Linked DNA regions of Homo sapiens. The protein of the gene in region 3 purifies or fractionates together with the protein of the main gene of each other region. This does not show direct contact. Each region holds a gene or a part of one and is shown on either strand. Other genes may lie near its edges. The genes, in order: TOP2B, VDAC3, COX15, KIF1A, MRPL14, MYO6 and LAMTOR3.

Region 1 (4,097 bases), on a different chromosome or scaffold from region 3:
AGAGGACCCATAGAGCTAAATCAGTCTTTAATCAGAAGAATAAAGCTAAAGGCCTCACACCTCCTGATTTCAAAACCTGATTTTACTACAGAACAACAGAAATCTAAAACAGTGTGGCACTGGCATACAGACAGAAGAGAGAGCACAGAAATAAACCCTTACATAAAAGGCCAAATGATTTTTCACAAGAATGCCAAGACTACACAGTGGGGAAAGGACAGTCTCTTCAACAAATGGTGCTGGGAAAACTGGATAACAAGCAAAAGAATGAAGTTGGACTCTCATGCCACATACAAAAATTAACATAGATTAAAGACCTAAAAGTAATACCTAAAACTCTGAAACTCCTAGAAGGAAACATAAAGGAAAACCTTTGAGACACTGGATTTGGCAATGATTTCATGGATATGGCACCAAAATCACAGGCAACAAAAGCAAAAATAGACAAACAGGACACCAAACTTAAGAATTTCTGTGCACCAAAGAAAACAACTGACAGAGTGAAAAGGCAGCGTATGGAATGGAGAAAATATCTGTAAACCATCAAATGGTTAATATCCAAAATAGATAAGGAGCTTCTATAACTCGACAATAACAAAATAACCCCATTCAAATGGATAAAGGATTTCAATAGACAATTCTCCAAATAAGATATGCAAATGGTCAACAGCATATGAAAAGATAATCAACATTACTAATAAGAGAAATGAAAATCAAAACCACAATAAGATATCACCTCACACCTATTAAGACAGCCATCAGAAAATAACTGTTGGTAAGGATGTGGAGAAACTGGAACATTTCTACACTGTTGGTGAGAATATAAAATGCTAGAAAAATGCTACAGCCATTATGGAAATAGTGTGGAGGTTCCTCAAAAAATTAAAAATAGAATTACTATATGATCCAGCAATCCCACTTTTGGGTATATATCCAAAAGAATTCAAAGCAAAATCTCAAAGAGATATTTGCACACCCATGTTCATCACGGTATTATTCATAATAGCCAAAAGGCGAGGCAACCCAAATGTTCACTGGTGTATGAATGGATTTTTAAAATGCGTATATAGATACAATGGAGTATTATGCAGCCTCAAAAAACATGGAAATCTTGTCATGTGCTATAACATGGATGAACCTCAAGGATATTATGCTAAACAAAATAAGCCAGTCACAAAGGACAAATACTGTATGATTACAATCATATAAAGTATCCACAGTAATCAAAATCATAGAAACAGAAAGTAGAAAGGTGGTTAACCAAGGGCTGGGGGGAGAGGGAATTAGTGTTTAGTAGATATAGTTTCAGTTTGGGAAAATGAAATACTTCTAGAGATCTGTTGCTTAACAATGTAAATATATTTAACACTACCGAACTCTACACTTAATGGCTAAGACAGTAAATTTAATGTTGTATTTTTTTACAACAAAAAAAATTGAACATGTGAAATGTAGATGACTTTGTCTAATATTATTTGTAATTTTCTCTAGGAAGAACATAGAAATACTGTAAAATAAGTGTGATGAATGTGTGACAATACACTTTTTTCTAAATATCATATGACAACTATTGAGGAAAGAAAAAGATATACCATTCTATTTAAAGTCAGGAAAAGCCTTAAGGGATACACATTATTTATAGAATACAATGGAAGTCATTTGCAGATATTTCAAATCAACTGCCAATTATAATATCAAACAACTTATAAAACCTAGGGCATGGTGCCATAGGCCTGTCGTCCCAGCTACTCTGGAGTCTGAGACCGGAGGATCAATCCCCTGAGCCCAGGAATTTGAGACCAGCCTGGGTGATAGCAAGCCTCCATCACAAAAATAAATAAATAAATAAATAGATAAAAAACAAACAAAAATCCTTAATATAAACCCTTAAACTTGGACGTTTCAATGAGTAAATAAGTCTATAATTACTATACTAAAAATAATTGGTGTTAATCTTTTATTGCTCTAGTTTTTATAGAAAATTTATATTAGTAAAGATAATCAAGTATGTTTAAATTAGTAGTTTATCAAAATGGCACTGTTTAGTGGGCATTACAAAGGAGTATATATAAAACATGAGCCCATTTTTGTCAGAAAAAAATTATGCATAATATATGCATGCATAGGAAAAAATGTGAAATATGCCCAACAGAATATCAATAAAAATTATCTATAGAGTAGAAATACATGCCACTTTTATCTTTTCTACACCTTTTCTAAATTTCTACAATGAATGCATAAAGAAATATGTTAAAGGCTTATTAACCCAAGTATGTGAAAACATAATTAAGCTAGAATAAAACTGAAGGTTTCTTTTCCTAGAGGCAATGTTTACACCTATTTATTACTTCTGCAACCCCAACTTTCTCACTAGAGGCTATGCAAAAACAAAATCAAAATACACAAATAAGATTGGCAGCCTTGGCAGAGTAGAAAGTAGAAATTAACACTAGAATCCAATTTGTCTTTTACGTTCCCATTCTCAACAAATGGTAATTTACATTGCTCACTGGCTCACTAGTGGCAAACACAGGAGGTTCTCCCCTGAGACTTTTATATGTTTTTGTAACAGAAACCTGAAATAATAGTCTCTTTCAACTCCTGTTTGTCAGCAGAAAGTTGTCCCCTGAGCAATGTCCAGGTCACTAAAAATCAAAATCTGGGGTAAGGGGAGAGAGGGCAACTTACCCAGTTAATATGATGATCCCATCCCTAGAACAGGTATGCATATTTAATACAAACCACCTTTGGCCTTAGAAGAGAGAAGCTAAATGAGAAACCTATTCTGCACCTTCTCCCTTGCTGTTATCATCACTATCTCTATCTCTTAAAAAAAATGTCACCCTGGGTAGCTCTTCAATTTTAACACTCTTGCTGACAATATTCAGAAAAGAGAACAGCAAATTGCCTTGAACAACCACAAACTAGCAAACTCCTATCTGCATGTTTATAAAAGCACCTCAACTTTACAGATCATAAAAGAGAGTGATGTATATCTGACACATGCAGGCTAACAGAATTATACTCACTTTAGACCCAGAAGAGTCTTTTGATTTTACCTCTTTTTATTCTTATATGTTCACAGTAATAAGATATCATGTTCTATAGCAATTGCTCACAGTACTCCACATTGAATAAAAATTAACAACATGCCTTTAAAAATAATAATTCACCGGCTGGGCGCGGTGGCTGACGCCTGTAATCCCAGCACTTTGGAAGGCTGAGGCAGGTGGATCATCAGGTCAGGAGATCGAGACCATCCCGGCTAAAACGGTGAAACCCCGTCTCTACTAAAAATACAAAAAATTAGCCGGGCGTAGTGGCGGGCGCCTGTAGTCCCAGCTACTTGGGAGGCTGAGGCAGGAGAATGGCGTGAACCCGGGAGGCGGAGCTTGCAGTGAGCCGAGATCCCGCCACTGCACTCCAGCCTGGGCGACAGAGCGAGACTCCGTCTCAAAAAAAAAAAAAAAAAATTAGCTGGGCATGGTGGCGGGCGCCTGTAGTCCCAGCTACTCAGGAGGCTGAGGCAGGAGAATCGCCAAGAACCCGGGAGGCAGAGCTTGCAGTGAGTCGAGACAGCGCCACTGCACCCCAACCTGGGCAACAACAGAGCGAGATTCCATCTCAAAAAATATATAATAATAATTATTATTATTATTTACCAAAAGCATTTTGAATAAATTTGCGTTGAGACTAACGATTGAAAACTTGTTAAGTTTATTTGTAATTTATTTCCCTGCCTTAATTTATGTGAACAAATTACCAAACTACTGATAGTAATAAACAATGCCAGCATCCAATTAAATTGGAATCTAAAAAATCAAGGCTACATTTTCATTATCATGAAGACAATAAAAGTGTAAAATAATCACCATATTAAATTTCCTACACATATCTAAAAGTTGTTTTAATTATATTCTTTTTCATTTATAAATATGATGATAACATCATTGACTTTTTCTGAATTTCAAGTCAGCTGCCAAATTAAACAAAGCATTTAGGGAAAATTTAAAATTATAACAAAAATACCAAAATAACTATATAGACTATATATTTTAAATATTAACCTATCTTATGGCACTTTTGCAATATTGCTA
Region 2 (4,097 bases), on a different chromosome or scaffold from region 3:
GCTTTTCCAGTCCCTAAATATTTTAACCAGTTCTGCCAGGCGCAGTGGCTCATGCCTGTAATCCCAGCATGTTACGAGGCCAAGGCGGGTGGATCCCTTGAGTCCAGGAGCTCAAGACCAGCCTGCGCAACATGGCAAAACCCCATCTCTACAAAAAATACAAAAAATTAGCCAGGCATGATGGCACGTGACTGTAGTCCCAGCCTGAGCCCAGGAGGCAGAGGTTGCAGTGAGCCGAGATCATGCCACTTCACCCTAGCCTGGGCAACGGAGTGAGACAGCTCAATACCAGTTTCAGATCTTTCCATTACTCTACTTCTCTTATTAATATCTCTTGTTCCATATACTCTCTTACCAAATGGTAATCCTAAATTCTCTCCTTTAAAAAAGAAGTATCTTTACTGAAAACAAATGCCTTTACTAAAAAGACCAAAAATATTGTATCTTAAACATTTTACTTTCATGACCTAAAAAAAGATTATCAGTTCTCTGCTATATGTTTCAAACTATCAGTTAATTTCAAGGTCCTTAAAAATCCCAAAATACTGCCCTCCTCCTTTTTAATAGGGTCAACACTTTACTACTTCCTTTTAAAAATGTTTTTTTTTATTGTGGTAAATACATGTAACATACATTTTACCATTTTAATAATGTTTTAAGTGTACAGTGAAGTGGCATTAAGTACAGTCACACTGCTGTGAAAACTTTAATGCTTTTGTGTGCAAAACTGCAAAACTTCTGCTTAGACAATTTCAATATTTGAAAGTACTACCCATTTTTCAAAATAAAGTAGAATGCTATAATTTATCCTTCTTTCCCCCTTTCTATCCTGTCTACCTTTAAGAGTGCTTTCTATCAAACAGTTACTATGAATGAGACTCTGTCTCAAAAAAATAAAATAAAATAAAATACATCCTTTGCCCTAGTTCAGTGCCCTTTAAGTCATATGACAATAAGCAATTAGAAATGGACCTCCTTCTGGGGAAAGCAGACAGCACCTGTCACTGACAATCTATGAACTGTCAAGAAAAAACATTCTGATTGGTCCTGTTTTAGGGAGCATTTCTGAAATCCTGCCAACAGTAATGAGATGCTGCCAACCCTGACCAGTCTTTTTCACTGCCTGCAACATGAATCCTCTCCTTAACAAATGCCCTGTCCCCTAACTCTAGTTCTACAGGCAGATGAGACAACTGGGAAGTTATGTTCTGTTTATCAAACCACACAGAATGGTTTCAAAGAGAGTATCATGCTGCACATTTAGGGGAAGGCCTTAGTAAAAAAAAAATGATAACATGTTAATCATGTTTAACTGTTCACATAATTATTTTAACGTGACAATCATTTTTCTTTTAGTAGATCCAACTATCTAGTGTTTTATTTTTTACATTTACTTTTCACAAACTTGACAAGTATAACAAATGCAAATCTTAATTTTGGTGCTAGAAAAACCTTATGCACAAAATTAAGGTAGAGGGGTAGTCTACATTTCTCCCTTGTCAGCATCAATTCTTAGTTTGAAGGTCTGTCACGAATCTAAAATGCCACAGGTACAAATCTCAGAAAAAAAGGCTAGAATTGTTCTAAGTTGAGTTCCAGGCTCACGATTCACAGTTCAGTTTGTGTCTAATTTCATAATTTGGTCAAACAAGTGCAAAACACATTTATAACATGCATATAACATGCATATAGCTCTACATTAAATGCTTAGTAAGCAACAAAACAAACAAAAATGTTACTGTTAAGTAGATAGCATATGAGAAAAATATCAAGACACAATCTAAGAAATTTGGAACAATGATTGAAATTTATCCTAAATCAATACCAGAAACCAAAAGCAGCCATAAAAACAAGCATACGAATAAGCTTTTTTTTCTTACCATCTGAATGAATATTACCACACAACAGCAGCATGAAAGGGAGATAAAATTTTAGTTGATAATTTTTGCAACACAAACCTAATGAGCAAATTCTGGAACCTACACAAAATGAGAATGATTCTTCTATTTTAACAGAACTATATACACAGCGTGCCCATCTTAGTAAGGGAGGTGCATATATATTTATTTACTCCAGAGAAACCCAGGGAAAGAATGATGGTCACAAACCATGATTATACACAGTATCATTAGAATTCCACATGTCTTTGTCCTTCTAATTATACATTCAGAAATAAAATTTTCATGGGTTTGAATGGATAAATACCAAAAACGATGCAGCCAATGAGGAGAAATCAGAGTAAGGTAAATTAAAACTTAACCTACTTGCTGAGATTTATTAAATAAAAGCAATTTTTTCTGAGACGGAGTCTTGCACTGTTGCCCAGGCTGGATGGAGTACAGTGGCACGATCTCTGCTCACTGCAACCTCTGCCTCCTGGGTTCATGCCATTCTCCTGCCTCAGCCTCCCAAGTAGCCAGGACTACAGGCACCCGTCATCAGGTCTGGCTAATTTTTTTGTATTTTTAGTAGAGACGGGGTTTCACCATATTAGCCAGGATGGTCTCAATCTCCTGACCTCGTGATCCGCCCGCCTTGGCCTCCCAAAGTGCTGGGATCACAGGCGTGAGCCACCGCACCTGGCCTTTTTTTTTTTTTTTTTAAGACAAAGTCTCACTCTGTCACCCAGGCTGGAGTGCAATGGCTTGGTCTCGGCTCACTGAAACCTCCACCTCCCAGGTTCAAGAGATTCTCCCGCCTCAGCCTCCCGAGTAGCTGGGACTATGTGCGTGCCACCACACCCAGCTAATTTTTGGTATATTTTTAGTAGAGACGGGGTTTCAGAATGTTGACCAGGCTGGTCTCGAACTCCTGACCTCATGACCCGCCCACCTCGGCCTCCCAAAGTGCTGGGATTACAGGTGTGAGCCGCTGCACCCAGCCAAAAGCTATTGTTAATGATACTTTGAAAATATGCCAACATAGCCTTTACTGTAGTCTTTACTTCCAATAAAAAAAACTTTATAAACATCAGTTAAAAACTGTAGAATAATGTACATGCATACGTGCAGAAATACATTTTATTTACATATTTTGTTTCGACTAATCATGAAGGGGCAGAGTAAAGTTAATTTGTTTTTGTAAAAGGGTAATAAAATTTCCATGAACCCATTATCATGGAAGTGAGGTTTTTGGTGCCCATATACATATTCATGAAAGTATAAACATATGACATGGGTCAAAAAATATATATTCTACATCTTCTGAGTGAAAGCTGTAGTATACTCTGAGAAACACAAAAGGTCTCTTCAAAAATTCAACTTGGTTGTTTATTTTAATTGGCTAAGAATGCTGTTTAAAATCTGAGAGGACAAAGCTGTGGGGAAGACAGCATGGTGCTGGTTCAAGTAACTAGACTGTCATGATTTTAAACAGATTCCTTTAAGTTAATTATGTTACATTCATTAAAAATATATTAGATACTCACCACTCCACTACAAGACTTGGTTTTCAGGTCTATCTTGACCATGCCAAAGCCTATACACACACACACACAAAAACACAGTAATGTACAAAATGTGACATTCACTAGTTTTTGCAACTCAGAAATTATGAAATAGCCTATAGTACCTTCCATATGAAAAATGCATAGTATTTTCATTGGGTGAGAGTTCCTCAAGAAACTGAATTATAACCAAATAAATGCAGTATAATTTTCAAGCACTCAAAATGAATAAAGATATACTTTTAAAATGTAAGTTAAAGAAAAAAATAAATGAAAGGAATATGCACTATTCCAAGAATCAAAATTGCTGAAAATAGTGTGCTGCTATATATATCGTTTAAAATATAGTTAACATTACTAGTTAATAAGAAAAAATCAAATATGTACAGCACATAAATTTAAGTTAAATTTTAAAACCTAAAAAATATTTATTTAGGATCAGAATATACATTACTCCAAAGAAGTCAAAAGTTATGTTGTCACTTTCATAAAAACAATGCCACTGTTTGGAGGGAGGAAAAGTTCTACCCCCTAATTTAATTGTCCTCAGGGCCAGACAAAGAGACATAAATGTTATATATATTATTCTACATTCCAGATAACATTAAATATGGACATGTATATGCATCTGTATATGTATATAATTGCTTTT
Region 3 (4,097 bases):
ACATTTTTAATTTCACAAGCAAATATGCTTACAATGAAAGAAATTCGAACAAAATTGATAAACCTAAAATTCCCCTTATTCTTCAATCCATCCCAGTTCCCCAGAGTAGTCACTGTTACCAGTTTCTGCATACTTGTACTTTAGTATGTTTATAGAGAAATAAATATATAGTTTTGTGCTTTTAAAAAACATATTGTTCTGTCACTTGCTTTTTTTCACTTAGCAATATACACTATGTATTGAGATCTTATTAAACTGCTGTGCAGTATCGCACAGTATGGATATACCATAGTTTTTTTTGTTTTGTTTTGTTTTGAGACAGAGTTTCACTCTGTCTGCCAGGCTGGAGTGCAATGGCATGATCTTGGCTCACTGCAACCTCCACTTCCAGGGCTCAAGCAATTCTCCTGCCTCAGCCTCCCAAGTAGCTGGGATTACAGGCGTGTGCCACCCCGCCTGGCTAATTTTTGTATTTTTTAGTAGAGACAGAGTTTCATCATGTTGGCCAGGCTGGTCTTGAACTCCTGACCTCAGGTAATCCGCCCACCTCGGCCTCCCAAAGTGCTGGGATTACAGGCGTGAGCCACTGTGCCCGGCCCATAGTTTTTTAACTATTTAGGTTGTTTCCAATTTTTCACTATCACAATTCTATGATGAATTTTCTCATACAAAAGGTCTTTGTTGCATTGGACTGTTTCTAGGACTGACACTAATAAGTTCATTTGCTGGGCCAAAGAATTACCCATTTAACTTTTAAAAGATATTGCCAGCCTGGGTGACAGAGTGAGACTCCATCTCTAAAAAAAAAAAAAAAAGATATTGCCAAATTGCCTTCTGGAAAAAACTGTACTGACTCATGCTCTCACCAGGAATATTTGAAAGTATCCATTTTCCTATGCCCATGGCAATACCTGATTATCTTTTTTTTCACTTTTTTCCAATTTGATAGGCACAAAATGGTACTTATTTTTTAAATTTGCTCCTCTCTGATTATAAGTGAAGCTGAACAGCTTTTCATGTTTACTGGCCATTAATCATTGTTTTTGTGGTAATTGTGTATTGATGTCCTTTACTTATTTTCCGGTTATTAATCTTTTAATTTATTATAAATATGGAAAATATTTTCTCCTAGTCTGTCACCTTTCCTTTTTTTTTTTTTTTTTTTTAAACAGACAGGGTCTCACTCTGTTGTCTAGGCTGGGGTGCAGCGGTGCGATCTTGACTCACTGCAGCCTCAACCTCCCTGGCTCAGGTGATCCTCCCATCTCAGCCTCCCAAGTAGTTTGGACTACAGGCACACACCAACATGCCCATCTAATTTTTGTATTTTTTTTGTAGAGATGGGGTTTTGCCATGTTGCCCAGGCTAGTCTTGAATTCCTGGCTCAAGTGATCTGCCCACCTAGGCCTCCCAAAGTGCTGGGATTACAGCCATGAGCCACTGTGCCCGGCCCCTTTTTTAACTTTGTATTGGGGATACTGTCAGAACAAAAAGAAGTGGTTTATACCTGTGTATACGCCAAAGCCAGCAGAGTCACTGCTGCCATCTTGGTCCTTCTAGGAAGGGGAATTCTCCGAGAGAGGAAGTAGAGCACTGTAATGGCAGTGACTGAAGTGATTCCCTGCAGGGAAGAAAGAGTCTATCACATTAGATAGAAGTGCCAGGTTTCTAACTCACCTTACATGTATCTCCTCTAGAACCACTCAGCAACCATGAAGTACTTTCCTGTACCAGTCACAGAGAACCTCCCTGCAGTCCCAGCCTGATCACTCCTCCACAGGCTGTCTCTTCCACCATCCTCTTCTGCTTGCCACTTAAACGTCGGTATCACCCAGGCTCCACCTAAGATTCTGTATGTACTTTATACACCCTCACTCCCAGTGATCTCATCCACCTTCCAATGTGGGTGTCCCCCTCATTTTTAATTCTTTGCATCCTTATCCCTAACCATATCTCTAATCCTATATTCTTAAAGCAGGGCTGACCCCAGCACATGAGGGTTATTATTTTCCTGGGCTGTGAGTGGAGAAAGTGCTGGTGCTGCCAGCTGGTGCTAAAAAAGACCTAAAGTCTCATTTTCATTCCTATCTCTTCAGAACAAGGGTCCAGGACTGGCAATAATGGTCTCCTTCCTCTTCCACGGTATCAGGGAGAATGTTTTCTATCATATTTCTACATTTATTTCACTTCATTTCCTTTTCAGTGCTGTCCACAATGACAATTTCAACCAGGCTTTACTTATGCTAAAATACTGTGCGCAGGTGGGGACTCAGCCCACACCAGGTAACATGCCTCAGCCCAGCCCCCGTTGGACAGCTGAGCCCTCTGGCCCCCTCTCTCTGGACGTGCTGCTCTCATCTCACACTCAACATACCTCCATCTGATGACATCCTCCCACCTCTAGCTCCACACTCATTCTGAGGGTCCCATCCCTGTAGGTCATGTTTCAAGCATGCTGTAGAAGAAACTTTGGGATTTCACTTGATCTTTCTTCACCTTTATTCCTGACAGCCAATCTTATTAACTCTTTTCCTTTATTTATTTATTTATCGTAGAGATGAGGTCTCCCTGTGTTGCCCAGGCTGGTCTTGAACTCTTGGGCTCAAGCGATCCTCTTGCCTTAGCCTCCCAAAGTGCTGGGATTACAGGCATGAGCCATTGCGCCCAGTGCTCTTATTTTTAAATTAAATTTAATTTTTTAAGAGACAGGCTCTCACTCTGTCTCCCAGGCTAGAATGCAGTAACGTGATCACAGCTTACTGCAGCCTCAAACTCCTGCTCAAACAATCCTCTCGCCTCAGCCTCCCAAAGTGCTAGGATTATAGGTGTGAGCCACCATGCCCAGCCTCTCTATTCCTTTAAATTCTCTCTCAAATGCATCATTCTTCTCAAGTCCCACTCCCACCATGTAGGCCCCATCTCCATCACTCTCCCTGGCATTACGCAGCAGCACTATGCTTCTCACAGTCTCCTTACTGCTCATCTTTCCCCGCTCCAATTCATCACACACAGGCCTCCAAGCCAATCTTTGAATGGCCCATAGCAGACCCTCAAAACATATTCGCTTAAATAGAATGAAAAGTACTGGTGAAGCTCCTGGCTCCTTGAGCTTCTGGTTTAGCTCCGAGAGCTACGTGCTTAGCAGCTATGGTCTCCGCATTCGCTTCTCTACTCAACCACATTTCTGCTGAAATGACTTTCTAGGTACGTGCAGAATTGAGGGAGGTTATCACTTGCCAAGTGGTAAAAGGCACATTTGAACTTTTAAGAAGCTGGCAACGTCCTGAAAGCTAGAATTTGGCTGGGGTTGGGGTAGGGGGACAGGGGTGAATAATGAGGACAAAGACATTAGATTAGAGAAATGGTCCTAAAATTTCTTCCAAAGAGAGCAGGAAATATAGTTCCTGCTCTACCCTCTCAGTGTTGCCATCAGTGCTTCACTGACACCCCAAAGCCTATGATAGGCTCCTGTGCTCTCTGGCAGGTAACCACCAACTACACTTACCAGAATCCGGTGATCAAACTGCACCATGGTGGGATTCTCAAAAACATTCCTCAGGATGGGGGAGAAGGTAAAGAGGTCCTCCGGGATCCAGGATTCTCCCATTTTGGGAAAGGAGTTATAAACAAGCCCAGCATCTAGCCCTGCCACAAAAGCCCCTGTATTCCAAGGTAAATGGTATTTATTAAAATGAGAGGAAGAAGAGACCAAATACTAGTTCTGATATAGAAAAAGTCTGTTATCCCAGAGTTAAACTAAGGGAACAGTCAGAGAATAATAGACATATCTGCAACAGGAGTTCTCCAACAGAGAAGATACATCACAATCACCAAGGAAACTTCAAATCTCTGCATCCTTACCTGCTCCCACCCCAAGATTCTGCTTCCTCTAGAGAAGTGGAGTAGAGGCTGTGGTGTGGGGGGAGGGGGAGAGGCTTATTAGCTTAGAAAAATTCCCTTAGTGATTTTGATGCCCTCCTCACCCCGCCACTGAGTGCTACTGATTTATTTTAGAAATGCTCTCCCACAGATGTCTGCATGACTGACTCCCTTATTTCCTCAGCTTCCACTCAGATGTCACCTTACCAAAGAGATTT
Region 4 (4,701 bases), on a different chromosome or scaffold from region 3:
CCCTGCCTCTGCCCAGGTGCCATGCCAAAGGACTGGGATGCAAAGCTCTGGGATCCCAAACCCTCCTGTAGCAGGGATGGGCCTATGGCCGGAGGCCACCACCTAAGGGGCAGAAGCCGGCAAGGACGCAGGCCCAACGCTGCCTGGCTGTGTCCCTGGGTACCCTGGCCACCCATGGACAGGTTCGGGGCAGGGTGTGGCCCAGCCCCCCATGGTTCTCAGAGACGCTCCTGGGCATGGAGTGGGTGATGGGCAGTGGGAGGTGACACCTTGAGTCCCTTTGGCCACCCATATTGTGGGTGGTGAGCCACATCCTTTGGGCCTAAGAACACTGAATGTGGCAATGACCTAGAGAGGTCCCCAGACTCTGCAGGCAGACAACCACGTGCTCATCCTACCAATCACAGCCACCCAGAGACCCAGGCCCACCACTCTCCACCCGTGGTAGCGGCTCAGGCCCCTCCCAGCTCACTGATAGATGTGCACGGATGGTCTCAGGCCTGACGGGATTGGCCAGCTAGGCATGTGCAGGGCTCAGTAAATCCCAATGACCTAATGCTGGTAGCCCCTCCATAGACCCCAATCTGGTAGGACCAGGGCTCTGTGGGAACGTCTCCCTTCCCGTCCCCACCACACCCAGTTCACCTGCTTTGGCCGGCCCGGCTGAGTGGCCTGAAGAGATGCCCTCAGTCTCCTCCAGGGCCTCCTCCTCCAGCTCACATCTCCCCCTCCACCCTTCACAAATCCCACAGGAGGACTGCCCTACCCTACTCCCAAAGGGCATGGTGGGCCCAAGGTCAGCAGTCATGACATCAGTGAGGACTGCGGGGCACAGGCTGGGCGGCCGGGCAGTGACCCCAGTTTTAATCCTGATCCAGCCAAGCATCATCCCTGGGCTTTGGGCAGAACTCCAGGCTCCACCTGTTTGTGGCTGGCCGGCTGGAGCCCCAGATGGGGCAGTCTGTGGGACATTCCAGTGGGGAAGGGGGAAAGGAGGCACCCAGGGGGGCAGCACCCGGCTGGGAGCAGGGCTGGCACACAGCAGACATCTTGCAGGCCCTCACCACAGGGACCTCCCTGGGCCCGGCCCGGGACCCCTGCCTTGACAACTGATTCCAGCCTCTGTCCACCCTGCGGACCTGCCCGGGGAGGACACCTGCAGGGCCTCAGATCCATCTGCAGCCGGAGTGAAGCTGTTCATCCGGGCCCTGCCTTGGACCCAGCACCCTCCCGAGACTTCACCCCGGGTAAAGGCTGCCCTCCTCCGATCCCACGCTGGGCCCCTCAGCCAGCGGCCTTACCGCATCCCTCCTCATCCCTCCGGTCCAGAGGGTTCCTGGGTCTTGACTCCAACCACCCCATCAACCAAACAAGGAACCCCTCTAAATAGACGGTGTGTGTTCAGTGCAAGGGCAGACCTGAGCCCTGGCCCTGGCCCATCCCACACCCTGCACCGCAAGCTCCACATCTGCTCCACTCCTGACTGCCCCACTCCTGACTGCCCCACTCCACAGCCTGGCTAAGGCTGGTGGCCAACCACACCTGCAAAATGGCCGCCGCAGGTGCAGCCCCAACCCCCACGTGGACCCCAGAGCTTCCCTTCAAACCCTCTGCTGCCTTCTCACACCACGAGGGTGCTGGCATGGCTTCCCTGGCAAAGGCCCCGCCAGCCTGAGTGCGACCTGGTGTCCCGCAGAGCCGAGCACGGTGTCGCGCTGTGCGTCCCCAGGGTGAGGCCAGTGCCAGCCCTGCGAGGCAGGGGCCTCTCCGCACCGCCTCCTCTCCGCAGCCGCAAGATCCAATCCGCTTGCCCTGGCAGGCCTTTAATTCCAGCAATGCAGGCACCCCTTGGAAAGGGCTGACGCTTGGGGAAGGGGTCCTCCAGTCTCTGGGGGAAAGTCCCTATTCCCGGGGACGTGGGCGCGCATCGGGTCCGCGCCGGGCGACGTCGCGCTCGCGCCCAGCAGGCCCCATGACTTGGCATTCCCTCCTTCCCCTCCCCCTCCCGCCCCTGCGGCCGGCAGGGCCCCCCCAACCCCACCTACCGGCGCCCAGCGCCCCGCTCCTGCGGACCCTCCCTCCCGGCGGGGATGCTGCCCCGGCCCTTCCCAGCGAGAGGGCAGCGCGGCTGGTTTGGGGGAAGTCAGCGTGAGGAGCGGCTTAAAGCGGGAGTGCGAAGGTCTTCGCGGCCACTGTTCCTTCGTGTCATCCGAGCCCGGGCGCCGGGGGCGCGCCGCCAGCCTAGACCCTGCGGCCCCGCAGCCCCTCCCTCGCCGCCGGGCCACACCTGTTACAGGGGCGCTGGCTGCTGAGACGCAGGCAGTGCTCGCCGGCGGCCCCTCCCAGGTGCTGGGTCTTTCTGGAAGGGAGCTGGGGTCTCTGGCGTGGGAGGGGGTGATGGGCAGGCCGGCCGTGCAACGAAGCGGGTGGCCAGGCCCCAACGCCGCAGCCCCCGCCCCGCCCGCCTGTTTTGCTCCCGGCTCCAGCATCCGCCCTCCCCCACCCCGGGAACCGGAGCAGCTGCCCGCGCCCGGCCGCCCTGCGCGCTCTCCCCTCGGGCCGAGGCGCTGCAGCCGCGCACCCTCCCAGGTGCGGCGTCAGCGTCCTCAGCCCCGCTCACCATCCCTCCCCTCCCCCGCCGTCTGGGCGCAGCCCCTCCCGCAGCCCCGCCGGTGGCTCCTCTCCAGGGAAGCGGAATAGCCGGGGAAGGGCGGGGGTATCCCGATCCCGCCGGCCGGGCGAGCCCTCCCGAGGGCGACCCCCGCCCGCCTAAGCCGAGGGTCCCGCTGCAGCCGAGATCGCGGCAAAGGGACCTTTTCCAGCGGCACCTGAAGGGCGGACACCCCTGAATTTCCCCCATTGTTCTCTGCGGAGATGGAGGAAGGTCTGGAAGTGAAGGGGCCTCGCAGTGCCTGCGCTTTGGGCGGCAACAAGGGCGCCGGGCCGGAGCTCCCCGCCCTGGGCGCAGTGGGTGCAGGTGCGGGCTGCGGGCGCGGGCTGCCGGGCGCAGGTGCGGGGCGAGGGGCGCGGGCGCGGGAGGCCGGGCGGGCGGCGGCCTTACCTCTCCGGCGTCACTGGCGGCGGCCCCGCATGGGCACTGGCATGGGCGCGGGCTCTCGAGCCCGGAGCTGCTGCCGCTCGCCGGCTGCTCTGCGCTGTGACGGCGCCGCCGCGTGACGGGCTGCGCGCCCCCGGCCCGGACCGCCCCGCGCCCCTCCCGAGGCGCTGGTTGGCTGCGCGCGGCGTCCGAGCTCCAGTCGCCAGCTGGTTTGTCGCGCGGGGAGAGGGACGGGCGACGCGGCCGCCGCGGGGATGGGGCTGGGGACGGAGGGGGCCGGGGCCGGGCTGTGACGTCACCGCTGACACCGCGGCGGGCCCCGCGGAGGGTGGGGGACCGACACCCGGCTCGGACGCAGCGTCCCCTCCCCCGGCGTGCCCCTGAGACCTCGCGGGGGAGGGACCCGGCGGCGCCCCGTCCCGAAGCCCCGCGTGCACCTGAACTTGCCCGCGGACCCCTCGCCGGGCCGTCCCCCACCCTGGCCCCTTTCGAGTGAAATCGTAAAACGTCCACCTGCCCCCGCTCTGAGCCAGCGACAGACGCATCGTGGGGGGCGGGCGGGGCTGGGGAGGGAGGGCTCCTTGCGCCAGGGATGCTGGCTCCGGGTGTAACAGGTGCGCGGTGAAATCGCATCTTGTGTCGGGGCCGGGGCGCCGGGGGAAGAGCAGCAGTGACCCAGGCCCTCCCCGCCGGATGATGCAACCCGCCCGCGGACCCGCCGCCTCGCCTCTACCGCGGCTCGTGGGGACCCCCCGCCCTCCTCTCGCCCCACCTCTCCAGGCCCCCATTGTCCTCACCCCAGCCTGTCCAGTTTAACTTCCTTGGACCCCCAAGTCACACGCCGCTCGGGGGCCACCCCGGCAAACCCCAGCCTGCGTCACCCGCCCCCAGCCGCCTTCCTAGTTCCAGGGGCTGACTGGTATCTCTGTGCGCGCCACCGTCCTCCCTCCACCGTCCCAGGGCTGGGCAACTTCGACAAAGCCTCTGGGCAGCTCGCCCATGGGAACCTCCCCGCACTGCGGTGCGGGGGTGCACGGATTTCGGGCCACCCTGAACCCCGGGGCTGGGTCCCCTCCAGCCCAGCCCCTGCCATCGAGCCCCTGCCATGGGCATCCTGGCGTCGCCTGGCTAAGCCTCCCTGGCGCCCAGCAGGGGCCTGCGCTGCCCTAGCGGCCTCGCCGTTAACCATTTCATCCACACTCCTGGGAGAGCCGGCTTCACCTCAGTCCCGACAGCTGCGTGCGAGCGCCTTGCAGGTGGCTGGGGGAGATTCACATCCACTTCTGCAAGACACGGGCCCCCCACTCCCAGCCCCAGCCCCGCCGAAACCAGCTAGACAGCTCCTCCTCCTTCACTATTTCCTGGAACCGCCGGCATGAAAGAGAAATCAATTGTTCTTCCTAACCCTGGCAGAAACAATAAAACCATCTGGGCTTCTGGGGCTGGGGTCTTTATCACCTCCGTTTTCCTCATGCTTTTTAATCTGGCAAGTTCTCTATTTCTCGAGGCAATAGACATTTTTCTAGGAATTAATCTATTTCACGTTAATATTTAAATGACTAGCATATCTTTTTTTCTTTATATTCTGGCTTTTTATGGTTTTGTTTGTTTGTTTTGACAGGGTCTTGCTCTGTCTCCCAGGT
Region 5 (4,097 bases), on a different chromosome or scaffold from region 3:
TAAAACAGGAGGGTAATACTTAGTGCTGACCAGGAAGTGGCATGAAATGCCATCTCTGGCGCCAAAGTTTTCCAAATACCTGGCCTCCTCTAAGTGAGAGTGTTGTAGAGAAGGAACTGTCATTGAAGTCAGTCTCCTGTGCACAAGATCCAGAGTGACATTGCTTGTAAAACAACCATTGTATATAGACTAGGTCTGAAGTGATTCAGGGTCTGTGTCCATAGGGTGGATTTATGCTAGGAAATAATATCAGGGTCCATCAGAGTTGCTTTGAAGTAAATTGCTGCCTCCATTGCTCTTCCCTGATCTGAAACAGTTATTTTAGTGGTGGGATCAGGCATTTTCCATAGTAGGCAGTGTAGGCACCAGGCCCAGGAGGTGAGTCCAGGGGGCCTGGAAACAAAGCACGGGCTAATCCTCCATGATTAGCACCATCATTCTCTTACAGCATGTTTGCCTGACATGTCCTGATTCCAAAAATACAGATAAGAGCTCTGCCGTTTCTGGATTTACCTCCGTCAGAGCCATGGGGGACCTGTCTTTCTCCTGGCTACCTCATTTATTTTATTCAACAAGTATTTATTGCACTCCTACTGTTATCAGGACTGGCTGGGGTCTTTTGCTAGGGTGGAAGAGGAGGGTATAACAGTTTGTTTTTTTGGAGGGATAAGGGACATATATACAATAAGTGAATATTTGATTCTTTTGTGCTTTCAAGTTCATAGGAATGCTAACTGCTGGCCATTTGATGTCTGAGTCCTTTGGGTTTAGGTCTAGACGTCAATATCAGATCCACTAAAAAGCTAGTGAAAAGTCACTGAATTGGGAAGTGCTTCCTAGAGACATGAATATATCACTCTTGGGTTTGAGGGCAGTACAGGTAATCCTTACCATCGAAGTCTGTGTGGCTCCTGAATTCCTGTAGCACGTTCAGTTGCCATGTTGTCAGAATATCTGGTTTCTGAATTTTGGATAGTGAGTGGGAAGAAATAGAATGTTAAAGGACATCAGACTTATCTCAAAGTATACAAATTTACTCATTGTGGGTGTTTGGATAGTGAATATTGGTTCAGTGAGTGTTGCACTGGCACAAGGATGTCCCAGTGTTCAGGAGGGGTAGCAATTGATGCTGCCGTTTGACACAAGACTTTGTGGAGGAGATGCTTGTGGAGCTGGGTCACATTTGTCTGGGCAGAGATGAGTGTTGGTTGTGGAGATGGCTTGTGAGCAAGGTGCAGAGAGGAGGCCTGAGTTTGTGTTTGTGCACTGACAGCCTTACAGAGTGTAGGGAGGTGCTTTGTGATGATACCTGAGTCAAGAAAGTTCTGGGAAGCCCTTAAGTGCTTCTGCAGTTCTTGGACTAATGTCAGTGTTCTTGAGGAAGCAGTGCGGTGTTGAGAGGCAGGGTGTTGCACTTCTCGGGAGAGGGAATGTGGGTGGTGCTGGGTTAATCTTGAGGGTTCTGTGGCGTTGTTCAGGACGCTCTTCTCTCTCAAGGAGCCAAGGACCTGCCAGCATCAGATGGGAACAGCTTGGCAGGGATTTGAGTTAACTGCAGCCTGGACCAGAAGGACTCTGCTTTTCAGAAGTTTTGTTTTGTTGTTTTTTGCTAGTTTTTAGTTATTGCTCTGAGTATTGATCTCTTCTTGCCTCCTACACTACAAATTGTCTTCAAAACTTAAAGTGAATAATTTTCACCTGATATGTGTCTACATTTCAGTTGATTCAGCAAGCACTGAATTGGCTGTGAGTAAAATGTGCATGTGACGTCAGTATTCTTTTTTTTTTTTGAGATGGAGTCTCACTGTATTGCCCAGGCTGGAGTGCAGTGGCCCAACCTTGGCTCACTGCAACCTTTGCCTCATGGGTTCAAGTGATTCTCCTGTCTCAGCCTCCTGAGTACCTGGGACTACAGGCGGCCGCCACCATGCCCGGCTTATTTTTGTATTTTTAGTAGAGAAGGGTTTCACCATGTTGGCCAGGCTGGTCTCAAACTCCTGACCTTGGCCTCAAGTGATCCGCCTGCCTTGGCCTCCCAAAGTGCTGGGATTACAGGCATGAGCCACCGCGCCCAGCTGACGTCAGTATTCTTGATGGAACAAGAATGATTTAATAGTTGTAAAATATTAATATTTAAATTAAAGTTGCCATGTTTACTCTGTTGAGTAAGAGCATGGGTTTAGGAAGCCCACAACTGGGGTTCATATTTCAGCCTAGTCATTCCTAGCCATGTGACCTTGGGCAAGTTATTTAACCTCTCTGGGCTTTATTTCCTTGTGTATAACAATGAGGCTAATAATAATTGTACCCATTTCATAGGGTTTTTTGAGGTTTATTTTATTTATTTATTTTTGAGACGGAGTTTTGCCCTTGTTGCCCAGGCTGGAGTGCAATGATGCGATCTCGGCTCACCGCAACTTCCACCTCCTGGATTCAAGCGATTCTCCTGCCTCAGCTTCCTGAGTAGCTGGGATTACAGACATGTGCCACCACGCCTGGCTAATTTTGTATTTTTAGTAGAGACAGGGTTTCTCCATGTTAGTCAGACTGACCTCAAACTCCCGACCTCAGGTGATCTGCCCACCTCGGCCTCCCAAAGTGCTGGGATTACAGGCGTGAGCCACCGTGCCCGGCCATGAGGTTTAAATGAGATAGTAATGTAAGACACTTAGCCTGCTGTGTGACACATTGTAACCATTTGATAAGTGTTCATAAATAAAGAAACAGAAAGAGGCCAAATGACCCTTAAAGCTGCTTGACACCCAGGGCTCTCCTGTGAAATGAGCTTTGGTATAGCAGAGCAAGGCTGCAGAGTGCGGTTGGAACACTCTTGGACTGAACCTGGATCCAGTTCTGTTTCTGCCCTTGACTAATTGTGGGACTCTACACAAGTCACTTAATCTGCCTGTATATCAATTTTCTAATCTTTAAAATGATATATGACATCATGATGATGATAGCTAATAGGTAATGAGTGCCAGGCACTGTGCTAAGTGCTTTGCATGGCTTATCTAATTGAATCCTCATAACTACCTTGGGGGCAGATACTATTAGTATCCCTGTGTTACAGATGGTAAACCAAAGCTCAACAGTTTGGTTACTTGTCCAGGGTCATCTCACCAGTAAAAGTAAAGCTAGTCTCATTTGGTAGTCTGTGATTCTCTGTGTGTCAGATGTTAGTAGTTGCATACATTAGCTGCCTTCTTTTGCATTTGATTTTTCTGATCATAATTACATTTTGGCTGATGCTTCATGGGTTGTCTTAAGGAAAACATTTGGGAGTAAGTTTGGGATTTGAGGCTAAATTGTAGTTAATAAGCATTTAAAGGCCAGGTGTGGTGGGTGGCTCACACCCATAATCCCAGCACTTTGCGGGGCTGAGGCGGGAGGATTGCATGAACTCAGGAGTTCAAGGCCAGCCTGGGCAACATAGTGAGACCATCATCTCTACAAAAAAAAAAAAAAAAAAAAAAAAAACACAAAAAATTAGCCAGGCGTCCTGGTGCATGTCTGTGGTCCTGACTACTTGGGAGGCTGAGGTGGGAGGATCACCTGAGCTTGGGGAGTTCGGGACTGCAGTGAGCTGCAGTTGCACCACTACATTCCAGCATGGGTGACAGAGCAAGACTTGTCTCAAGGAAAGAAAAAAAAGTATGGAGTGTCTAGGTATTCCTGGGGAGGAGTGGATTCCCCTGCCCCACCCTAACATTCTTATTAAATAAAATCTTATCTGAGGTGGTTTGAACTTGTGCATAGCAAAGCTGTGTGTAAATACTACAGTGTAGAGGCTTTTCTCGGCAGACCTCTTGAATGGGCACCTCTGCTGCCAAACGTTTGGGTGGAAAAACAGGTGTGTTTTGCAGCTGGCTACAGGCCTTTCTGAAGCATGCTCTGAAGTGATGTTCAGGTGTTTCAGGGCACTGGCAGCCTCCATATTTGTTAGTGCTAGGGAGCAACAGGGTTGAGATTCTGAAAACTGGAGTCACAAGTCTTGGGTTGGTGTTTGCTCTTTTAGCTAACTCTTCAAGTTGGTTTCCCAAAGCCCACTTTCAGCTGTAGTATGGTGTAGGTCAGTTTTCCATGTTACAGTGTTTGGG
Region 6 (4,278 bases), on a different chromosome or scaffold from region 3:
GGATGACAGGGCAAGACTCCATCTCAGAGAAAAAAAAAAAAAAGAATAAATAAACTCTGAGATTTATTTAAGTTATAACACTTCCCAATATTTTTAGATATTTTAATATATAAAAATGAAACTACACAGAGGTTAGTAAACTCTTCTTAAAACTGGTATTTTACATGTCAAAAATGGAGTCTCAACTATCAACAGAAAGTTAAAATGGGTTTTTTTCAATGTTTGGATGTTTGCATTTGTTCAAGCCTCACATGGTCAAAGTCTTTAAAACTTTCTAAAGAAAGCTACATTTTGGAACCCAGATACAGCCCAGTTGTCTAAACAATGGGCTACATGATACACCACAGACTCCAGGCAAAGTCACAACAGGATGAGAACAGAGCCTTCAGCCTCTCTCAGATTTCCTGGCCACTGTTATTTTAAAACTTGACCACGTAAACATAAACAGGGAAAAATCCATTTCAGATAATCCCTACTGGTTATGATTTACGATCTTTTGTTTTTAATGCAATATTTAATTGCATTAATTTACATTAAATATTGTAATTGTTCATAACATTTTTCTTGCTCATGTTTCTAGGCACTAACCAAGAATATATATGTATATCATATATAGTTTTATATATTATACAGTTTTTAATCATGATCTTTCCTTAAATGTCATTCATACTTCTGTTACATTTACAATGGTTTCTGAAAACAAAAATGTAACTTACAAAGATGAGAGAATGATAAACAGCATGTCACACAAAAAATACAAAAATAATGGGCAAATGTACATAAGACTAAAATGACTTCTGTTTACCAAAGTGGATGCAATTCCTGCGTAACGTAAAATACTCAAAATGAGCTGTATATATAAAAGTCTGTGAGCTATTTTGAACGGCAGCATGGTTTCAAGCTCTGGCTATAGCCCACTTTGTAACATTTGTGGCGGTTTCTACAATTAAGGAAAAAAGGCACAAAGGTAATTTTTTCACTAAACATTCTCCAGTTTGAAAACCACAACCCAAGACATCTAGGAAGTTCAGTTAATTTGTACAGAAATGCTGTTTTGCCGCCAACCTTTGTACCATGACCACTACCAGTCCAAGTTCAAGATTCACGTTTTATGGTGTGAAGATAAGTTTCAGCTAAATCTTAAGAATGTTAATTTTCAGGCCAGGCGCGGGGGCTCAAGCCTGTAATCCTAGCACTTTGGGAGGCCGAGGCGAGTGGATCACCTGAGGTCAGGAGTTCGAGACCAGCCTGGCCAACATGGCGAATCCCCGTCTCTGCTAAAAATACAAAAATTAGCTGGGCAGTGGCGCGCCCTTACTGTAGTCCCAGCCACTCGGGCGGCTGAGGGAGGTCAATCGTTCGAACCTGGGAGGTGGAGGTTGCAGTGAGCTGACAGAGCGAGGCTCTGTCTCAAAAAAAAAAAAGTTAATTTTTAAAACTCTCAAGTTCTGACTTTATTTAGATAGACTGCATCTATACCACCAGAGCATTAAAAAAAAAAAAAAAATGAGGCTTATTTAGCCCGTACAGTTAAGTCTATTAAGTTAGGGCAGTGCTCCTCATTTCTCACTAATACTTGTAAATCAGGATTTAAGCATCCCTCCACCACATCACTTTATGCCAGGTAAGATGTAAAGAATATTTGGCCAGGCGCAGTGGCTCACGCCTGTAATCCCAGCACTTTGGGAGACCGAGGCGGATGGATCAAGAGGTCAGGATTTCAAGACCTGCCTGGCCAAGATGGTGAAACCCCGTCTCTACTAAAAATACAAAAAAATTAGCCAGGCGTGGTGGTGGGCGCTTGTAATCCCAGCTACTCGGGAGGCTGTGGCAGAGAATTGCTTGAACCCGCGAGGGGGAGGGTGCAGTGAGAGGAAATCGCACCACCGCACTCCAGCCTGGGCGACAGACCAAGGCTCCGTCTCAAAAAAAAAAAAAAAAGGTAATGAATTTTTTAAACTGTATGGAAATACTTTTAAACACGGATGTTCTAGCAATAACCCCATCAAATTGTGTCCTACTTAAAATTAAAATCCCAGAGTTTAAGCATTTTAATCGTTTTAGGGAGTTTTTGGAAATTAACAAAAAAAGTTCTTGTTCAGTAGCATATCCGTAAATTAACATACTCAAGGTACTGGACCACCTGGAGACTAAGAATAAGGCTTTAGAAAGTCTCGATCTGGTCTCCTACATGATTAGACTATTAATGGTATCATTTGATCTTCACATCTCAGAGCAAACTGCGCTCCCCCTGCACTGAATTTTAAGCGTGTTTACAAAAGAGAAAATAAAACTATCACGGAGTGTCCAAGTCCGAGTTAGGCACCTGAGTGCTCTGCTTCTACCTGGGAGCCAGGGAAGAAACACAAAGGGACCTTGGTGATGAGAACCCATGAAAGGAGACTGATTGTCTTTCGGTGGAAACGAGAACCACCGCCGGCCCCACTGCTGCCCAGGGCCCACCCATCCATCACCTGCTTCTCCCACCCGCGTCCTCGGGCAGTGAACAGAAGCGTCGGCCCCGGAGCTGCTCGAGGAGGCCCGGGAGCAAGGCCGGGCCAGGGAACGCGAGACCCCGGCGCCGACGCCCCGCAGTGGGTCTCTGGGACACTCACCGGTGCGGGAGCGAAGGCAGGTGCGCGGCGGCGGGGCTACCTGTACGGGTGAAGCTGGAGGGCGCGGTGAGAAGTGATGAGGGCCAGTGAAGAGGGCGACGACGCGGACGGGCACCAGGACAGGGCGGCGACAGCGGCCGGGCTGAGGCTGGCTTCCTGCTCGGACAGATCCCGAGTCGGTCTCCGCCCGCCGGCCGGCGCCCCGCCGAGTCCCCGGCACTGCGGCGTGCACGTCACGGCTACGGAGCGCCCGAAGGGGCGGGGGCGCCGGGGCCGCGGCAGGCCGTCGGGCGCGCGCTCCGGGAGGGAGGGCGCGCTCCGGGAGAGGGCGCGCGACCCCCGGGGTCGCCCCGCCCGCGGCGCAGAGCCTCTGGGGCGAGGGTAGGCGCCCTGCAGCGCAGAGAGGGGCTGCCCCTGGACAAGCCGGGAGTTCTTGTTCTTCCCATGGCGAAACGGCCTCTTTTGCCGCGGTAGTTGTTTCCAGTCCCGGCAAAGCAGGTCCTGTCCGGCTGGATACTGTGACTGTGCAGTCTACCAACAGCGAGAATCAGTTCAAGCAGGGAGAAAGTTGTTCGGAGAAGGGGCGAGGAGTCCGGGGCTCCGCGCGGGGGACCCAGGAACCAGGTGTCCGCGCTTGGGCGGCAGCGAGGCTGCGTGGCGGTTGCGGCAAGAACCACTGCTCACTCGGCCCCGGATCGGGCCGGCTTGGACTGGGCTGCCCTGCATAGGGGGGAACCTTCCCGCACAACTAAGTTGCCATTCGGTCTTTGGAGGAGGGGGCTTGGGATGGGAATTTCGCACCCCTTTGCCTCTTCCCGCTCCTACCCTCGCCGACGCATTTACTTTATTTAGAGCCCCTACCTTCTCAGTCGTTTAAATGTTACTGTTTTTATTAGTGACATACCTGTGAGTCACCTTTTAAAATATGAAGTACCTATGCAAATTTGAATTATATGGTAAAAACACATCACCTTTACAATGAAAACAGCTTCTTTTAAGGCAACGAAATAACAATTGACTATAATGCTAAATGTATCCGCTGAAAAAAGCCTACTTGCACATGAGAATTACACGTTTTTCTGCAACATTTATATGTAGCGACTTGGAAACTTCTGGAAATCTAGAAGATTCTGACGAGGAGACAAATTTCTGATACTTAAAGACTCCATGGTTCTGTGGGTGGAGAAATAAAAACTCTAAGTTCTGATAAGATGTTTTAGAATTCAACTAAAACAATAAAATATTAAGAGTAAAATAGGGAAGTAAGAAAGAGGAAGAGAAACAAAGAAAGGAAATAATTTACAGCAATCTCAGAAATTTAATTCCAAATTGCCAGAAGGTAAGTCTTAAGTATATAAAACTAAATTTCAAAACAAACTGAAAAAAAGAGGGAGAAGATGAAGATGGCTGTCTCAGTTCACACTGCTCTGACTCAATTTTGGATTTAATACTAAACTTCATTTGGCAAACCAATAGAAGTCAATACATTTTTTTAATTTTCTTAATTTTTTTGTTGTTGGTAAACACAGGGGCTTGCTATGTTGCCCAGGCTGGTCTTGAACTCTTGGCCTCAAGCAATCCCTGCCCGCCCCCCTCCCTTGGCCTCCCAAAGTGCTGGGATTACAAGTGTGAGTCACCACACCTAGATAAATCAATACATTTT
Region 7 (4,097 bases), on a different chromosome or scaffold from region 3:
TTATCAGCAGGGGCTATAGTGACAAAAAACAGCCTTTTTCCTTTTTCATTCATGCAAATATTAAGCGGCCAGTATTTGTGGCACTTAATACTTTGATACTATGAAAAACAGAAATAAGCACAATCATTGCCTTCACATGGCTTCCAATGTAAAAAGTGAATGTGTTACCAATAAAATAATCTCACAATAACAAACGTAAAACTAAAACTGGTGGCAAGTGTTGTTAAAAAGTTCATAGGGATATGAGAACCTAGAAAAGAGGAGGCTGATGCAGACAGACAGTGGGCCAGAGAAGGCTTTCCTGGAGGCAGTAATACATCAGCTGAGACGTTATGGCACTAAGTGAAAAGACGTGGAAAAACTGTTCCTGGCTGAAGAAACAGGGCAAAAGGAATGCAGGCTATGCAGTAATCCTTTCAGCCATGCTTACGTAAGAAGTAGTAAGCAGAACGGTCAAGCTATAGCTCTAAAGTTAGAAAGATCTGGGTTCCAGTCCAGGCTCTGCCACTTATTATTTATGCTATCTTGGGCTAGTTATGAAACCTTTACAAGCCTCAGATTAACAATTTGAAAATGGGAATAACTGTACTTACTTAGATACTGTGAAATTTAATAATACAAGGCATGTAAAGTGTAGGCTGGCACATAATTCAAAAATATCACTTATTAACTAATACCAGTGGTGTCAATTGTGCACACTGACAATGACATAATTTATCACTAAAGTACTAAGTTATCAGTGAGAATCCCTGGGAAATTAGCAATTAAGAAACATATGGTAGAGCACAAATATACTGTGTTAAAAAATATAAGGTGACACTCCTCGACTTTCAACATTTATGCAAAACCCTTTCATTGTTAACATAAATCTTATAGTCCTGTAACTATCTTATGGTATCTATAAACTACAACTCAGAGATATGTTCAATGTCCCTACAGCAACCCGGAATGATCTATTCTTTGTGTTAACTTTAATGTATTAACTAAGGAATAAGAAATACTTATATTAACCTAATGTTTAAATACTGACATTAAATTTTTTAAAATCCCATTGTCAAAAACTTTTAAGTCAGAAAAGTGTTATTAAATATGAATGGAAAATGTTACAAACAAAATCATTTGTCTTCCTTACATTAAAAATAAGAATAAAATAACTTTATAAATGACTTTTATACTATTTTTATCCTATTATTGGCATGATTTCCTAATCATTCAATCCTAAACTTATTTATAGATTAAAATATATCTCTAAGATTAATACATAACATAGGCCGGGCACAGTGGCTGACGCCTGTAATCCCAGCAATTTGGGAGGCCAAGGTGGGCAGATCACCTGAGGTCAGGAGTTTGAGACCAGCCTGGCCAACATGATGAAACCCCGTCTCAGCCAAAAACACAAAAATTAGCTGGGTGTGGTGGTGCTTGTCTGTAATCCCAGCTACTTGGGAGACTGAGGCATAAGAATCGATTGAACCTGGGTTGCAGTGAGCCAAGATTGCGCCACTGCACTCCCAGCCTGGGTGACAGAACGAGAGTCTGTCTCAACAACAACAACAAAAAGATTAATACATAAAATAAATATATTCTTCTAAGTTAAAAACTAGGTTATATAAAACATATACTACAGATATTTGTACATAAGCCAATTATTTTGTGCAGTTACCAAAAGCAACATCATTTGAAACAGTAAAGCATTACAAATCCAACTGTCCATCAAGAAGGACAAGGTAAGTTATGATATACACCTACAAAGGAATACTCTGGAATACTCTGCAGCCATGAGAAAGAGGAAGTTCTCTATGTACCAGGAAAGATTACTCTCAAAGTTACATTCTTAAGTGAAAAAATACACAGTTTAGAACAGTGTATAGAAGAAGCAATAAATTATGTACCAAAATATGCAGGCATATGTGTATGTTGTGTGTATAAATACGTGTATATACATGTCTGCTCATAGGTACATAAAATATCTCTGTAGGTAATGGTGGGTGCCTCTTTGAGGGGAAACTGTGCATGTGGCTGGAGAGGAAGGATGGGCAGCTTCTCACTCTATGTTCTTCAGTTAAGTCTTGAATCTGAACTCTGTGAATGTACTACTTACCCCCAAAATAAATTAAAAAGCAGGTAAAAAGAGGACCACAAAAATGTTTAGAAAAATTAGTGCCACCACAGGTAGCTTCTTTTTTTAAATTTCCATGGAAATTACTTTAAATACAACTAATGCTCCAAAGAAAATAAAAGGACTTTCTTTTTGATGGACTTCACAGAGAAATGAATCAAGAAAGTAGAAAAATTACTTACACTCTTAAGTATATAATTTTAGAAATCAGGTCACAAATATAAAAGCTGTTTTCAATTCTACATACAATGCGCAAAGAGTAATATAAATAGAATTTACTAATAATTAAAAATAACTGGCTCATTAAGAGATACTACACTTTTAGAAGAAATGAATTAAATTTTGTGAAATATTCTGAAGAAATCTAAACCTTAAGCTTACTAAAACAACCATTTTTTTCTAAAAACAAATGTTGCATTACTAATCAAAGACATCGGATTTAGTTTTATACACATAATTATGAAATATTTGGTTGTTTTAAAACATACAAAGTGGGATTATTAAAGCCTGAGACTGCTTTGGGTCACAACCAGATTTTAAATTGCAAATACAAGAACGATATTTTGCAGAGAATTCAAAAAACGCACAAAAACACACATTCCATTAGTATCCGTAGCTGGCTGACTTTGTTACTGAGAGGCACTGAGGTACAACAGTTAAAAGCATGAATCCATGGCTCTGAAGCAGGATGCCTGCATCCAAACCCATACATCTAGCAACAAATCAAAGCGTATATTCTACTATTCTTCATAAATGTTCAAAACATTATTATTTCTTCATTATTACTGTTCTGGGATGCAATAAGCCTATTTTCAATAAATGATATAATGAGTTGAACTGGCTTTTTTTCATTATTAAAAAAAAAACTGACAGTACTAATACCTTTCCTGCCATTATGAAAGATTTTCATAAAGCTTTTAACAAATATCCTTTAACTGAATTTATTTCTTGGATAAGCACAACAACCTGATATTTCCCCTTTTGTTAAAAGATAAGAGACATCTAAATTCAAAGAAGAAGCAAGCATTTACTTTCCAACTATTTTTGATCAACATTAGAACTACTCAGTAATATAATAAATACTTTTGGTATTATTCTCTAATTCCTTTACACAGACAGCTTCATCATATCCAGTGTCACACGCTATTATGATTTTGAGAGCACACTTAATAGTTAAAATGAGATCCCCATTGTCTGAAACATTTTTATTGCTTATAATCACAGATGATGTAATTAGAATCAATTATTGCTTTATTAGATCTCCAGGTGACTAATGAGTATCTTTCTGGTCGGTTTATAACTTAAGAACATTGAATGCAATTTTGCTGTTTCTTCAATAAGAGATGCTAACACTCAAAAGAGGACTGTAAATCACTAAGACTTCTAAGTGAATTAACTATGTACTATTAACTATTTCATCATATCACCAGCGTAGTGGGGTATCTCTCCGTCCCAATTTGAGCGCCCTTTCATTACGCTAAGGTAACTACAGAAAAACACAGAAAGCCCTCATTTTGCATAGTTCCAATATGCACATTTTAGTTACTATGGTTAAGTAATACCACTCCCTGCAGAAGAGCACAGGTCAAATTTTAGTTAGCATGGCATAATACCTCAATAACTACGTAAAGTATAAACTTTTCTAACTCTTTAGTCCACAAATCACTACATAAATAATTATGTAATTAACAGATGCACACTGTCATCAGTAACCAGCCACATCATTTCTTTCAAAGTATGTTGATGGTTGGTCACTGTGCATCTGTTATGCAGCTCATGCAGAGATAGCAAAGCATGTAGTTTTGTACCTCCTTGTCTCCCAATGATAAAGTATGTGACATTTAGAAAAAGAGATAATAAAAAGAGGAAACTGGCCAACAAAGACGAAATACAGCAAAGAAATGAAAAGTAATAATGCTGAAATTTCAAATAGAAATGCTGAATTTCAAATAGAAAGTAAAGAATTATAGAAGAAACA

Evidence for each region.
Region 1: the proteins of COX15 (region 3) and TOP2B purify together in Homo sapiens (affinity purification with mass spectrometry, with the first as the bait; one large-scale study listed by BioGRID). This does not show direct contact.
Region 2: the proteins of COX15 (region 3) and VDAC3 purify together in Homo sapiens (affinity purification with mass spectrometry, with the first as the bait; one large-scale study listed by BioGRID). This does not show direct contact.
Region 4: the proteins of COX15 (region 3) and KIF1A purify together in Homo sapiens (affinity purification with mass spectrometry, with the first as the bait; one large-scale study listed by BioGRID). This does not show direct contact.
Region 5: the proteins of COX15 (region 3) and MRPL14 fractionate together in Homo sapiens (co-fractionation; one large-scale study listed by IntAct). This does not show direct contact.
Region 6: the proteins of COX15 (region 3) and MYO6 purify together in Homo sapiens (affinity purification with mass spectrometry, with the first as the bait; one large-scale study listed by BioGRID). This does not show direct contact.
Region 7: the proteins of COX15 (region 3) and LAMTOR3 fractionate together in Homo sapiens (co-fractionation; one large-scale study listed by BioGRID). This does not show direct contact.

The regions. Positions count from the first base shown.
Region 1 is NC_000003.12:25,654,606-25,658,702, forward strand, and holds part of TOP2B (DNA topoisomerase 2-beta), read right to left. Parts: intron 1-4,097. UniProt on the Homo sapiens protein: Key decatenating enzyme that alters DNA topology by binding to two double-stranded DNA molecules, generating a double-stranded break in one of the strands, passing the intact strand through the broken strand, and religating the broken strand.
Region 2 is NC_000008.11:42,394,464-42,398,560, reverse strand, and holds part of VDAC3 (non-selective voltage-gated ion channel VDAC3), read right to left. Parts: intron 3,478-4,097; coding exon 3,428-3,477; intron 1,884-3,427; coding exon of another isoform or gene 1,881-1,883; intron 1-1,880. UniProt on the Homo sapiens protein: Non-selective voltage-gated ion channel that mediates the transport of anions and cations through the mitochondrion outer membrane and plasma membrane.
Region 3 is NC_000010.11:99,714,841-99,718,937, forward strand, and holds part of COX15 (heme A synthase COX15), read right to left. Parts: intron 3,661-4,097; coding exon 3,506-3,660; intron 1,640-3,505; coding exon of another isoform or gene 1,622-1,639; coding exon 1,508-1,621; intron 1-1,507. UniProt on the Homo sapiens protein: Catalyzes the second reaction in the biosynthesis of heme A, a prosthetic group of mitochondrial cytochrome c oxidase (CcO). Heme A is synthesized from heme B by two sequential enzymatic reactions catalyzed by heme O synthase (HOS) and heme A synthase (HAS).
Region 4 is NC_000002.12:240,817,061-240,821,761, forward strand, and holds the start of KIF1A (kinesin-like protein KIF1A), read right to left. Parts: upstream 3,160-4,701; 5' UTR 3,062-3,159; intron 2,218-3,061; exon of another isoform or gene 2,046-2,217; intron 1-2,045.
Region 5 is NC_000006.12:44,117,221-44,121,317, reverse strand, and holds part of MRPL14 (large ribosomal subunit protein uL14m isoform a precursor), read left to right. Parts: intron 1-4,097. UniProt on the Homo sapiens protein: Forms part of 2 intersubunit bridges in the assembled ribosome. Upon binding to MALSU1 intersubunit bridge formation is blocked, preventing ribosome formation and repressing translation.
Region 6 is NC_000006.12:75,747,761-75,752,038, reverse strand, and holds the start of MYO6 (unconventional myosin-VI), read right to left. Parts: upstream 2,801-4,278; 5' UTR 2,616-2,800; intron 1-2,615. UniProt on the Homo sapiens protein: Myosins are actin-based motor molecules with ATPase activity. Unconventional myosins serve in intracellular movements. Myosin 6 is a reverse-direction motor protein that moves towards the minus-end of actin filaments.
Region 7 is NC_000004.12:99,887,654-99,891,750, forward strand, and holds part of LAMTOR3 (ragulator complex protein LAMTOR3), read right to left. Parts: intron 1-4,097. UniProt on the Homo sapiens protein: As part of the Ragulator complex it is involved in amino acid sensing and activation of mTORC1, a signaling complex promoting cell growth in response to growth factors, energy levels, and amino acids.